Linked DNA regions of Homo sapiens: all the other regions are reported to be linked to region 1. Evidence: microRNA targets listed by miRTarBase, many of them from high-throughput screens and not tested one by one. Region 1 holds a microRNA gene; each other region holds the end of a gene's coding sequence.
Evidence for each region. The annotated mature microRNA hsa-miR-4640-5p reads UGGGCCAGGGAGCAGCUGGUGGG and lies in region 1 at 1,335-1,357, shown strand. An mRNA with a match to its seed (bases 2 to 7 or 8) in the 3' UTR can be bound and repressed. Matches are read on the target gene's strand: a 7mer-m8 pairs with bases 2 to 8, a 7mer-A1 pairs with bases 2 to 7 and ends in A, and an 8mer does both.

Region 1 (3,113 bases):
GCTCCAAACAATATTGTAAACCTGGCCACCTTTTGGATTTCTCCACTTAGATGTCTTTTTTTTTTTTTCTAATAGATGGGGTCTTGCTGTGTTGCCCAGGCTGGTCTTGAACTCCTGGGCTCAGTGATCCTCCCACCTTAGCCTCCCAAAGTGCTGGGATTACAAGCACTGTAGCCAGCCACCTAGATGTCTAATAGGCATCTCAAACGTACGTTTAACTTCCCAAGCTGAATTTGATTCCCATTCCCAGCCTAAACCTGCTCCTCCCCTGGCATTCTCCAGCTCAGGAAGTGGTATCACCATTGCCTGGTTGCCTAGGCTATAAGTTAAGATGATATCCTTGATTCCTTTTTTTCTCTCACCTCCTTCCAAAGCATCAGCAGCCCCGTCTGTTCTACCTCCATAGTGTTCCTGAGTCCAGTCACTCCTCACCACTCCACCTCTACTGCCCTAGGCCACCTGCCCGCCATCTCCAGCTTAGATGAGTGCAGTAGATGCCAAACGCGTCTCCCTGCTTCTGCCCTTTTCTGCCTGGAGTCAAATCTCCACCTGGGGGGGCGGCATCCAGTGGACCTTAGAGCATGTAAATCAGATACGTCACACCTAGCTGACACCCCCATGCTGGCTTTCCACTCTGCCAGAACAAAAGCTGAGTCCCTAGCTGGTGCAGGATGCTCAGCCTGACCTGGCTCCTGCCTGCATCACTTGTTTCTTGGCGCCTCCTTGGCCACGCTGCCTTTCTTCTTGTTGCTGGAACAAGCCAGGGCTCGTTCCCACAGCTTCTGGACATTTTCTCTGTGCCTGCAAAGCTCCTCCCCTAAATAACCACAGGCTCTCCCTCACTCCATTCAGTTCTCTGCCAGGTGTCACCTCCTTAGAGAGCCTTTTCTGGCCACCCACCTCACTGCTCTGTCCATACTTCCTGCCTCTTGTTCTTCGCAGCTGTTTTCCCTGCTGGGATCTCAGTCCTACAAGGGTGGGGAGTGACGTTCACCACTGAGAACGCGCCTGGCACAGAGCGGGCACTCAGCCAACTTCTGCTGAATGAACAGAGGGAATGGGCTGAAATGAAGGGGAAGCTGAGGCAGGGGTGCAGGGCTGTGAGGATTGGGGAGAATCTGGGCACAATGGGATGATAGGCTTGGAGACAAATGGATGGAGCCAGGCAAGGAGAAGAGGGCAGCTGAGCCTGAAGTCTGAGGATGGAACATCAGAGCTGCGACAGAGCCAGAGGTCTCAGCTGCAGATCTTCATTTCACCCATGCCTGGCTGCGCCCCACAGTGCTGTGTGCTCGGTGCCACCCCTCATGGGTCTCTAAGTGGCCACTGTGGGCTGGGCCAGGGAGCAGCTGGTGGGTGGGAAGTAAGATCTGACCTGGACTCCATCCCACCCACCCCCTGTTTCCTGGCCCACAGGTGATCTCAGGCAATGAGGACCCTGAGGGAGTGGTGCTGAAGGACCTTGGGCCCCCCATGGTTGCCCGACTGGTTCGCTTCTACCCCCGGGCTGACCGGGTCATGAGCGTCTGTCTGCGGGTAGAGCTCTATGGCTGCCTCTGGAGGGGTGAGTGGCTCAGCTTCCTGGGAATCTGTTTCCTGAGCAGGGGACTGGAGGGTGGGGAGTGTGGAGAATGGGCATCCAGGATCCCTTCTCCTGCTGGGAAGCTGTCACTCTGAGGAGGGGGCTAGCCAGCATTGTCTCCTCCATGCCAATGAGCCAGTGGAGAGATACAAGAAGGGACCTGAAACCTGCCCAGGCCTGATGCAGGGATGGGGGATGGAGCCTTAGTGCCTCTGACCCCCATCCTCTCACCCTGCCCCAGATGGACTCCTGTCTTACACCGCCCCTGTGGGGCAGACAATGTATTTATCTGAGGCCGTGTACCTCAACGACTCCACCTATGACGGACATACCGTGGGCGGGTAAGAAAGGCCCCTGCAGGATATGGAGTTTGGGGTGGGAGGGAGGACTGTGTGTGTGTGTGTGTGTGTGTGTGTGTGAGAGTGTGTGTGTGTAGGGGGGCTGGTAAGTAGGGTGGGGAGTGAGATGGAAGAGCTGAGAAGAGGGATGGGTTAGGTGGGGCCTCAAAGGGTAGCACTAGGGTGACCACTAGCCCGTATGACACTGTATGAAAAAGGCACCCCTTTGCTAACACACATTGTTGGAAATTGCTGCAATAAATATACACATCATAGATTGAAATGGTGCCCCTTAGAGGTGGTGCCTTTGTGCTGGATGTGACCTGCAAGGTACCTGTAGTGCTGGGGTGGGGTGGAGAGAGGAGAAGGGCCAGCTGCATGAGTGTGAGGTGGGATGGGAATGGGACTAGTGGATGGGAGCCAGGCTGGCCATGCCACTGTGCCGGAGGGTGGCGGAGCAGAATGCCTGGATGTCAAGACCCTCTTCCCTTCCAACCTCCTCTTCCTTGGTCCCCTCTTCTCCAGACTGCAGTATGGGGGTCTGGGCCAGCTGGCAGATGGTGTGGTGGGGCTGGATGACTTTAGGAAGAGTCAGGAGCTGCGGGTCTGGCCAGGCTATGACTATGTGGGATGGAGCAACCACAGCTTCTCCAGTGGCTATGTGGAGATGGAGTTTGAGTTTGACCGGCTGAGGGCCTTCCAGGCTATGCAGGTGAGTGAGTCCGGCTCTCGAGGAGGGCTCTGAAGCCATGCAGGGTGCCGTTGGGGTGCCCCCACCACTCCTAGCCTTGACCCTGTGCCCTCTTCCCTTCCCCCCAGGTCCACTGTAACAACATGCACACGCTGGGAGCCCGTCTGCCTGGCGGGGTGGAATGTCGCTTCCGGCGTGGCCCTGCCATGGCCTGGGAGGGGGAGCCCATGCGCCACAACCTAGGGGGCAACCTGGGGGACCCCAGAGCCCGGGCTGTCTCAGTGCCCCTTGGCGGCCGTGTGGCTCGCTTTCTGCAGTGCCGCTTCCTCTTTGCGGGGCCCTGGTTACTCTTCAGCGAAATCTCCTTCATCTCTGGTAAGCCCTGGAGTAGCCCAGTCTCCAGTCCCTGAAATTGACAACTGATTTCATTCCTAACCCTGCAGTGTCCCTAAAATACTCATTCCTTGCATTATATCTACCCATCACCCACCGAAACTTCTCA
Region 2 (3,113 bases), not on the chromosome of region 1:
GAGTGCAGTGGCGCAGTCTTGGCTCACTGCAAGCTCTGCCTCCTAGGTTCATGCCATTCTCCTGCCTCAGCCTCCCGAGTAGCTGGGACCACAGGCGCCTGCCACCATGCTCAGCTAATTTTTTGTAGCTTTAGAAGAGACGGGGTTTCACCGTGTTAGCCAGGATGGTCTTGATCTCCTGACCTCGTGATCCGCCCGCCTCAGCCTCCCAAAGTGCTGGGATTACAGGCGTGAGCCACCACGCCCGGCCCTATAGACTTTTTAAAATCATGTTTACTATTTGTTATAGTAGAATTGGATCTAAGATATTAGTGCTAAATTTTTCACTCAGTGACAGAATGTGCCTAGTTATATATCTTTAGCGAATTAATTGAGTGAAAATGATAACATCTCTGTGATACTTAAATCTGGTCTTTTAAGCAACACGGAGGTAGTCACGTTTCCCGGAAATCCGAACACTTGAGTGTCAGACCACAGACTGCGTTGGAAGAAAACGAGACTCAGAAAGAAGTTCCACAGGACCAGCATTTGGAGGCACCTGCAGACCAGTCGAAAGGTCTCTTGCCTCCCTGAAGGACCTGTATACTGTGTATGCTGGCATTCACACTCTACTCACTGGCTGAATGTTGAGCTATTTTTAAACAGTTGAACTGTGTAAATGTTTCTTGATCTCTAAGGTATTATGTTTGCCTTCTCTTAGTTATTTCTGGGTTGTCACAAAGCTCAGTATCATGGTTTGACAGAAGCAGTTATGTGAACTTTTATGTTAGGACATTACTAAATAAAGAATTCCCTAGCTGCTTATAAAGTAAATTTACTTTGAATTGTAAATAACATGAAGAAACCTTTATAAAGATTGTTCAAATGGGACTCAATCTGACTAGGCTTGCTTTGATGTTTGTTAGTATGTGGGCTGGCTACATCTGATTCCCGGGTACATATTTCTTCTGATCCATCAGACTTATACGTGTACACATGTTGTGGAACCTTGGCTAGCTGGTTTTGTCTGCAGAGAATCTTTGTACTTCTTGCTATAGAACGATTATCTCTCCACTTGAGAGGCCAAGCTGACTTGCGCTTTGTGGTAAGAGTGAGGACCTGTCATTGCTGATACACAAAGACCAAAACTGTAACTTTAATGTCATGGATTGAGTGTGCTGGAGACAGTTAACATAGGCCTGCACAGACTAGGCTGTTCAGTAAATACTTGTTGAATGAATGAGTGAACGAATGGTTATATCCAGCTAAAGACTGGATTCATATGGTGTAGATAACAGGATTGCCAAGAAAGGAGGCAGCTAATTTAGGTGATGCTCTCCACCAGCATCCACCTGCCTCCCTGGGGCCAAAGTGTGCCTACAAGTCCTTATCAACTTCCCTGCCTTCCTCGTTTCCCCAGGTTTTACTAAATACATGAAATATCCCTCTGAGATTGCAGCCTTTGTATATGTGGTCAAGCCAGTGGTTTTTAGCTGTTAGTAGTAAGCTGCTTCAGAAATTCCCTATTTTAAAACTCATGTAGATTTTCTACCCAGTGATTCTTTGTGTATGCTCTCATCTCTCCTGGTACACTGTGAGGCAGGTCCACATCTCACAGTCTGTATATAGTACACATCCATGCACGTGGGTGCTTGGTTCATGCAGGTGAATGAATACATTAGGCAAAAGCAGCTCTCAGCCATGCTGCTTCCCCCTCGACCTTTATCACTGTTTCACAACTGCTTGCATTTGGAGAATGCTTTACTTTTCCGTAGGGAAGTAAATTTCATCCATTCAGAGACATTACACAACCATTGAGACCAAACATCGGGCCAGACCTTGGGAAGAGGACTTAAAAAGCAGGTGAAAGACACAGTCTATTCTCAGAGGAACAATTGAGGGGTCACTCATCTCTTTAAACCTTAGGTTTCTGGTTTTTTAAGGGCAGGTTTTTTTTGCCACAATGATGAATATTTAAAAAATGTTTTTTTCCTTCATGTCTGGATTGATGTCCCATTTTTGCTATTTTTGTTTGTTTTCCTCCTCTGTAGATTTTTAATTTTTTTTTTTTTTTTTTTTTTTTTTTTGCGATGGAGTATCACTTTGTTTCCCAGGCTGGAGTACAGTGGAGCCATCTTGGCCCACTGCAACCTCCGCCTCCCAGGTTCAAGCAGTTCTTCTGCCTCAGCCTCCCAAGTAGCTGGGATTACAGGTGTATGCTATGACGCCCGGCTAATTTTTGTATTTTTAGTAGAAACGGGCTTTTAACCATGTTGCCCAGGCTGATCTCAAACTGCTGGCCTCAAGTGATCCACCCATCTCAACCTCCCAAAATGCTGGGATTACGGGTGTTAGCCACCATGCCTGGCCTTAATTTTTTTTTTTTTTAATTTTGTTTTAGGAGATGGGGGTCTCACTGTGTTACCCAGGCTGGGTGCAGTGGTGCATACCCTGCCGCAGTCTTAACTCCTGGGCTGAAGCCATCCTGGCTCACTTCCCGAATAGCTAGGACTATAGGCATGTGCCACCACGCCTGGCTCTTTAACATTTTTTTTGTTTGTTTTTTTTTGTAGAGATGGAGTCTTGCTATGTTGCCCAGGCTGGCCTGGTCTCAAACTCCTGGCCTCAAGCGATCCTCCTGCCTCAGCCGCCCAAAGTGCTGGGATTACAGGCCTGAGCGACCGTACTGGGGCTGAAGACTTTTAAAGAAGTTATTTGTTGCATAATTCTTTAAAAAAATTATACATGCACATGGTTCAAAACTTAACAGTAAAAAGCTAGTCTCCCACCCCTGTTCCCCAGCCACCCTTTTCCCCTTCCCTGAGGCCATCACTATCACCATTTCCTTGTGCGCTCTTCCAGAAATATTTTGGGCATGGACAGGACACTATGCATACTGTTCTGTACCTTGCTTTTCTAGTTACTATGTCTCAGAGATCCACTGTGATTTAATCAGTGCCCGATTGAAGAAAATGTTCTTTGTTTTACTGTGTTGCAAATGGGCTGCTAGAGTTATGGGATGCTGGATCAAGGAGCAGATCATTTTGAGTTTTGATATCTTCGTCCATAGAAATTGTGCTTAACTATACTCTCATAGCAATGTATGAGAATGCGTTCCCCTACACATTCTGATC
Region 3 (3,113 bases), not on the chromosome of region 1:
CATCCATCACTTTGCAGGTTCGGAGGACCCGGCATGTGACGGGCAGCAGTACTCTTCCTGCTCTGCAAAAGAGCCCCTACATGTGGCATTTAAGGGCTTTCTGCCCCCTCCTCTGCCCAGGCTTGCTATCACGTCTCCTGGGTCTCCTGGGATCTAGTCTAGAACATTCCAGGGGGCACTGCCCACCTTCCCTAAAAGCTGTGGGATCTTATGCTGAAGCCTCTGCCTGCTAATTGACTCCGGCTTTTCCTTCTATCCCTCATGAGAACCATGGGCCAGGGCTGAGGCTGAACACATGGAATTGGGCACGGGTCCCCATCGAGAGCTCCAGAAAGCCCAGGCTGCATCTTGCTCAGCCTGGCTGGACGCAGAAGGTGTGTTTGTTCTTAAGATATCCTAATACATAACAAGCAATGTGCTCTTCACAGAAACAGCTGCAGTGAAAAAAAAAAAAGATCACACAGCACTAGAGCCCATCTTGGGAGGTGACCTCAGGTCTCACACCTCAGTATCTCCAGATCCCCAATGCTAAATGTACCCCATCAGGGCGTTTGAGACTTTCCATCAAGGAGAATTTAGCTATATAAATTTAACATTATAGATTTAACTACACAAAACAGAGAAGTCAGCTGTTTGTCTAAGCTTTCAATGACAGATATTTTAATTGTGGAATTTTTAAAGCAAACAAAGCAATGGAAACTTCATTTTTATTCTAGACCAGTCTATCCCAGACATGCTGATTATGGTTGGCTGTGCTGAGTCCTCATTTACCGTATGAAATGCAAATGTCTGTCAATTGCAATGCCTGGGGCCAAGCCAGGCCAGTGGACTTGTGTGCAGTTCCCACCGGAGCCAGGAGCTGCTCAGACAGCAGACCCAGCCCAGTCCACTGGGTTTTGCAAACACAGGCTCCCTCTGCAGCAGCATGGGCTTGTGGAAGGGAGGCATGCCGCCGCCAGCATGCATGCCAGGGGTCCGGGGTTCTCCCCGTGTCTGCAGAGGTGAGGGGTACAAAGTGAGCTGGAAACAAAACACTGTGTTCCCCCTTGGCCTTGAAGAAGTGCCTCAACCAACTCCTCGCCAGCTGCAGAGTACTCAATCTCCTCACAGAAAGAATGTGTACAAAAAAACTAGAAGCTTTTCTTTTTCCCAAATGGCTGTTGAATTTATTTGCTTGATCAATAATGGTCCTGGCAAAAATTAGTTAACCAATGCTGAGACATTTGTAATGAAATACTAATTTTAAAAATCCATGACACCTTGATAGAAATTAGAGTTTACACAAACAAAAAAGGAACCTTCGATATTGCCAGCAGCTATAAAGTGAACGTACTGAGACCGACAGGACAGCAAGAAGGCATTTGCACATTTATATCTGACACCCGACCATACTTTCAGTCACCAGAATATCTTCTCTCCAGATTTAAAAAAATAGTATGCTGATTTCTATAACAAAGCTTTTTTTCGTACAAAAATCAAATAATGGCCAACGAGTCACAACAGTGCAATAGGTAGAGGATTAAAAACTGCATCAAACAGGTGCTGAAAATAAATACTACCTAGGAGAAGGAGGTGAGAGCCCTCGTGTGGGGTTTGTTTTCGACCCCTTGAGTGTGTGTGGGGTTTGTCTTCCGAGCCACGAGCCTGGCCTGTCTCGCGGTGCTGTTCACTCTGACAGAGTGCGCCTGCAGCACGTTGCCTCCAGGGCCCAGCCTCCCAGAAGCCTCAGAGCATCAGAGCATCCGTCTCATCGGATGGACCAGAAACAAGAAAATGGGGTGGGGTGAATCACAGCTATCATTCAAAGGAAAGGAATTTTTTTCTATTGCTCAATCTTGTCAATTGGGAGTCCACCAGTAGGTTCACTGAGATGATATGGATAATTTCAAACTTTTGTTTAAGAGCATATATATGGCTTATTCAGGCAAGGAGACGTGTACATTCTAGCCCAAGCAAGCAATCGGAGTCATTCTGTTTTTAAGGAAGGTCAGTCGTTTAAAAGATTTCTGGTTTGAACAACATCCTCTGTGGATGCACCAGGCCAAGGTGACTACCTTTGACCAACCCAGTGAGAAGGCCTTTGCTGGTCCCCGCAGTGAGGAACTGGCAGGAACGGGCAGCCTCCTCCCCGCTGGACTGCACTGCCGGGGGCCGGTGGGCAGGCTCCACAGGCAGCCCCTGTCTGTGGCCAGACAGGCCGTCCTGGTGACTCGGGCTTATAGACTGTGGTTTAGAACTGCAGAAGGAGAGAGGAGAGTGGGCCAGGGAACACCCACCAGGCGCTGCTCTGACCAGTCAGAGAACGTGAGGCAGCTCCCCCATAGGGATCTGCACCGAGAAGGTGTGGAAGGCACAAGCAAGAGTGACGGTACCAGAGATCCCAGAGGGCGTGGCTCGCGGCGGCCACAGCAGGCGCAGCGCTGACCTGGGGTGGTTCCCCCCTTGAATGAGAAAGAGATCCTGATTCTGCTGTGATAAAAAAGCAAAGAAAGACGGTTTTTGGTTTAAAAAGAAGCCACTCAAGGGTTAAAATAGTTATTTTAAGTTAACAAAGAAAATTAATCTTCAAATAAGCTGACACTATCTGGAAAACTCATCTGTCCCTAAAGCCCACAATGCGTCCACTGCTTCGTCCTCCCATGGAACCTGAGCCTGACGTGAAGGAGTCAGACGTGTGACAGAGGAAGAGTCTGAGAAGAGAAGACACCTTTACAGAATGTACAGCGAGAGAGCCGGCCTGGCCCCCGGGTTACAGTAAGATGCACGGGTCCTTTCAGTCTCACGGACTCCAGACGGCCACGCAGGCTGCTCAGATGGACGTCTCCTTCCTATCCCTGCTGGGCGATGGCTTTGCCGGCTCCTTGCCTGCCTTTGGCTGCTCTTTAGCTGCTTTTGGCTCAAGGACGCCGTCTCTGGGCGGCTGGACGGCACCCCCGCGCCACTCAGGCTCCTCGTCCTCCTGCGCCTGCTGCTCGGCCTTGGCTCGCTGCATCTGGAGCAGCCGCAGCTGCACGCGCAGCTCGATGATGGCCTCGCGCTCCTCATGAATTGCTTGATTCAAATGATTGTTCTTTATCTTGGGGAATGACAGAAAGGGCAGTTATCACTTAAGG
Region 4 (3,000 bases), not on the chromosome of region 1:
ATTTTGTACTTTTAGTAGAGATGGGGTTTCACCATGTTGGTCAAGCTGGTCTCGAACTCCTGACCTCAAATGATCTGCCCGCCTCCACCTCCCAAAGTGCTGGGATTACGGGCTCGAGCCACCATGCCCCACCACAAGGGCATTTTTACATCAGAGGAACTATTCTGAATGATTCTGTAGCATGGTGATACATGTCATTCTACATTTGTCAAAACCCATAGGATGCACAACACAAAGAGTGAACTTTAATATAAACTATGAACACTGTAGCTAATAATGAATACAAGTTCATCAGTTGTAACAAAGTGCCATGCTAATGCAACATGCTAATTAGAGGGGGAAATATGCAAAGAAGAGGAGGGATATGGGAATCCCTTTGTGCCTAATTTTTCTGTAAACATAAAACTGCTCTTACAAATAAAGCCTATTAATTAAAACAACAAAATACAAAACAACAACTAAAACCAAAAACAGCCAACACCCAATGGGTTGAGCTGGAGTAAGAACAGGCTGCCCAGCACACTTCCTGGGCCACTGAGCCCTGGGCGTGAAAAGCAAAAGGGCCAGTGAGGTTTGGCTGGGACTCAGCTCCCCAGCCTCTGGCTCAAGCCCGATTACGAACACAAAGGTCATCTGATTGGATTTCCTGTCCCCTCAGCTCACTTAAGGAGGCTTTTCTGTCCACAGCTTTGGTTGCAAAAAGCAATCTGGCTAAAGGGATTTGGGACATCCGGCTGGTGAATGTAGGGGAGGTTTCACCTTTAGATGAGGCACCAGAAACGATGTGCTCCCTGGTAGCATCCTGAGCTGCCCCTCTTGACTTTAATGCTAACCCTGCTGCTTTTCCTCAAGGCTCAGACATCCCATTTCGATGCTTCCAGAAGCACAGCCTGAACCCAGGGACAGGAGCTGCCGCCCTCCCACTGGAGAGACCTCAGAATGGACACAATTGATTCCCAAGTACCCTTAGAGCTCCTGGAAGAGGGTTCCCTTCCCGTCCCCAAGACCAGCGATGCTTCTTGGAGCCAGGTGGCCCCAAAAGGATGGCCTTTGGAGAAAAATAGGCCCCCTTCACGGCCCATCAGCTCCAGGTCAGAGAAGCCACTGGGTTTACACTGCGTGGGGACAGGAGGGTTCTTGATACTGGTCCACATTTAGTGTTCGGTGTGGAAAGCGGAATAAGTCCTCAGCTTCCATGGGATACTGGAATAATCTAGGTAATCTAAGCTCATAACTTACCTTTTCACTATTTACTTTCATATTTTTCCATTCATGTTAAGCATAAAGTTGAAATGTGAGCACATAGCAAAACCTGAGTCTGCATCCCTCTATTTACCCAGTGGTGTGACCTTGAGGAGGTCGAGCTCTCTAAGCCTCAGCGTCTTCAGCTGTGAAACGCAAATTGTGGCAGATCTCCCTGGGATGGTGTTGCCTAAGGGAAATCCCTCCTGGCTTGGGCTCGGGGATGCAGATGCCTAGTGGCAGGCACGCATCCTCGCTTCCTCCCCACAACCTCTCTCCAGCCCCACAACCAACTGTCCCTACCTCCAGCCACTAGGAGGGACACTCTCCATGATACCCCGAGGTCAACTTCCTATGTATCCTGACACAGCACACATTCCTGATAGTCAACCACAGGAGGCTCCGGGCTAAAAACTGGAGTGAGTGGGGAGGAGGGAGGAGGTGATACCACCCTGAGAGAATTCTTGTCCTGCAAAGAGAACTAAACAAATAGTGCTCCAGGCAAAAGCCAGGCTGGTGAAGGAGGCAGGGGATGAAGGAGGGGCTGGGAAGGGGAGATGACAGAGAGGCTTCACAGAGGTCCCGGCGAGCTGATGGGGCCTTGAGAGGCGCCTCTGCAAGGCCTCAAGGTGGGGACATAAAAGGCGCAGGGGAAGTGAAGCTGCTCAGGGCTTGACCCTAGCTCCACACAGAGGCACCTGCCGTGGTGCAAATACACACTGCGCGTTGGGGGGCGGGGGAAGGGGGCGGGGGAGGGCTGTGGCGGACTTGTCCCATGCTCTCACTGCAGCGAGGCAGGTTAATCTGTTTATTTTTTCAAAACAAAACTAAAAATCGCCACTCAATGTATCTGAGCAGAGTGCCTGATCACAGTTAAAAGCTTTCTGTAATGCGCAGCAGGAACGTCATAGCCTGGTGGTCAGAAATGAGTGCTTCTGGCGCTGCTGGACTGTGGCCCGCAGCCTGAGCACCCCTTCTTCTCCTCCCTCTGCTCATATTGTCTTTGTGCTGCCATCCAGTCAGCAGCGGACAGCCAGCCCAATGCTGCTCAGGTCTGTGGCATCCAGAGATAAAAGGCGTCTCCGCTCCCCGCAGGTTTCTGCTTTGCCCACCTGGTGGGGTACGCGCCTGGCACGCCACCCCCACTGGAGGTCCTGAATGGTCCACAGAGAAGGCGTGGGGCAAGGCCTCAAGTGCTGATGCTCTGAGAATAAAAATTAAAAGGCAGCTCTGCCCTGAAGCGTCACCCCACAGGGCTCATTCCTTGGCTGTGCCCTCCTGGGTCCCAGGGTGGACACATGGATTTGGTGTCATCATCGCTCGTGCTTGATGTTGGCTTCACTTCGCTCCAAGGCCACCCCGCTGCCGTTCCGAGGGGCATCCTTCTTGCTCCAGTCCTTTTCAGTGTAGAACTCGGCTAGCACTGGGCAGTGTTCAGAAGCCACCCCGCCCCAAGACCAGTTATCCGGAATCCAAGGGTTCGTGAGGCCTTCTCTCACCACAGCCCAGTGACCTGAAGGGAGAGGAAGGAAAGAGACCGGGAATCAGGATGGGGGGTTGGGTGCGGGAGGTCCTGGATTGGCAGGTGGAGGGTCACACCGCATGTCTGCAGGCCGGGGTGCCCGGAGAGGCTGCCTCAGGTAGCTGGAAGGTGCCTGTGCATTTGCCTGTGCATATTAAAGGTCTCGGCCAGTTTGATTTTCCACATAAAGGAGAGTTTCTGCATTTAGGCAGTGAAAACACCCAGAGGCCAGGCCT

Region 2: miRTarBase lists MRPS23 as a target of hsa-miR-4640-5p. Seed matches in the 3' UTR shown: 7mer-A1 at 2,117-2,123.
Region 3: miRTarBase lists RALBP1 as a target of hsa-miR-4640-5p. Seed matches in the 3' UTR shown: 8mer at 2,258-2,265.
Region 4: miRTarBase lists EEPD1 as a target of hsa-miR-4640-5p. Seed matches in the 3' UTR shown: 7mer-m8 at 561-567 and 7mer-A1 at 528-534.

What each region holds. Positions count from the first base shown.
Region 1 is chr6:30,889,557-30,892,669 of GRCh38, forward strand. It overlaps MIR4640 (microRNA 4640), which reads left to right and starts at 1,327; the gene lies at 1,327-1,416. It overlaps DDR1 (discoidin domain receptor tyrosine kinase 1), which reads left to right. Exons shown (of 18, transcript NM_001297654.2): 5 at 1,417-1,564; 6 at 1,824-1,923; 7 at 2,446-2,632; 8 at 2,740-2,986.
Region 2 is chr17:57,837,243-57,840,355 of GRCh38, reverse strand. It overlaps MRPS23 (mitochondrial ribosomal protein S23), which reads left to right. Exons shown (of 5, transcript NM_016070.4): 5 at 421-3,113. The coding sequence ends at 573. Among named protein-coding and RNA genes, the nearest start is that of MRPS23, 11 kb to the left of the region's middle.
Region 3 is chr18:9,535,634-9,538,746 of GRCh38, reverse strand. It overlaps RALBP1 (ralA binding protein 1), which reads right to left. Exons shown (of 10, transcript NM_006788.4): 10 at 633-3,076. The coding sequence ends at 2,810. Among named protein-coding and RNA genes, the nearest start is that of RALBP1, 62 kb to the right of the region's middle.
Region 4 is chr7:36,298,762-36,301,761 of GRCh38, reverse strand. EEPD1 (endonuclease/exonuclease/phosphatase family domain containing 1) reads right to left here. Exons shown (of 8, transcript NM_030636.3): 8 at 224-2,755. The coding sequence ends at 2,556. Among named protein-coding and RNA genes, the nearest start is that of MATCAP2, 67 kb to the left of the region's middle.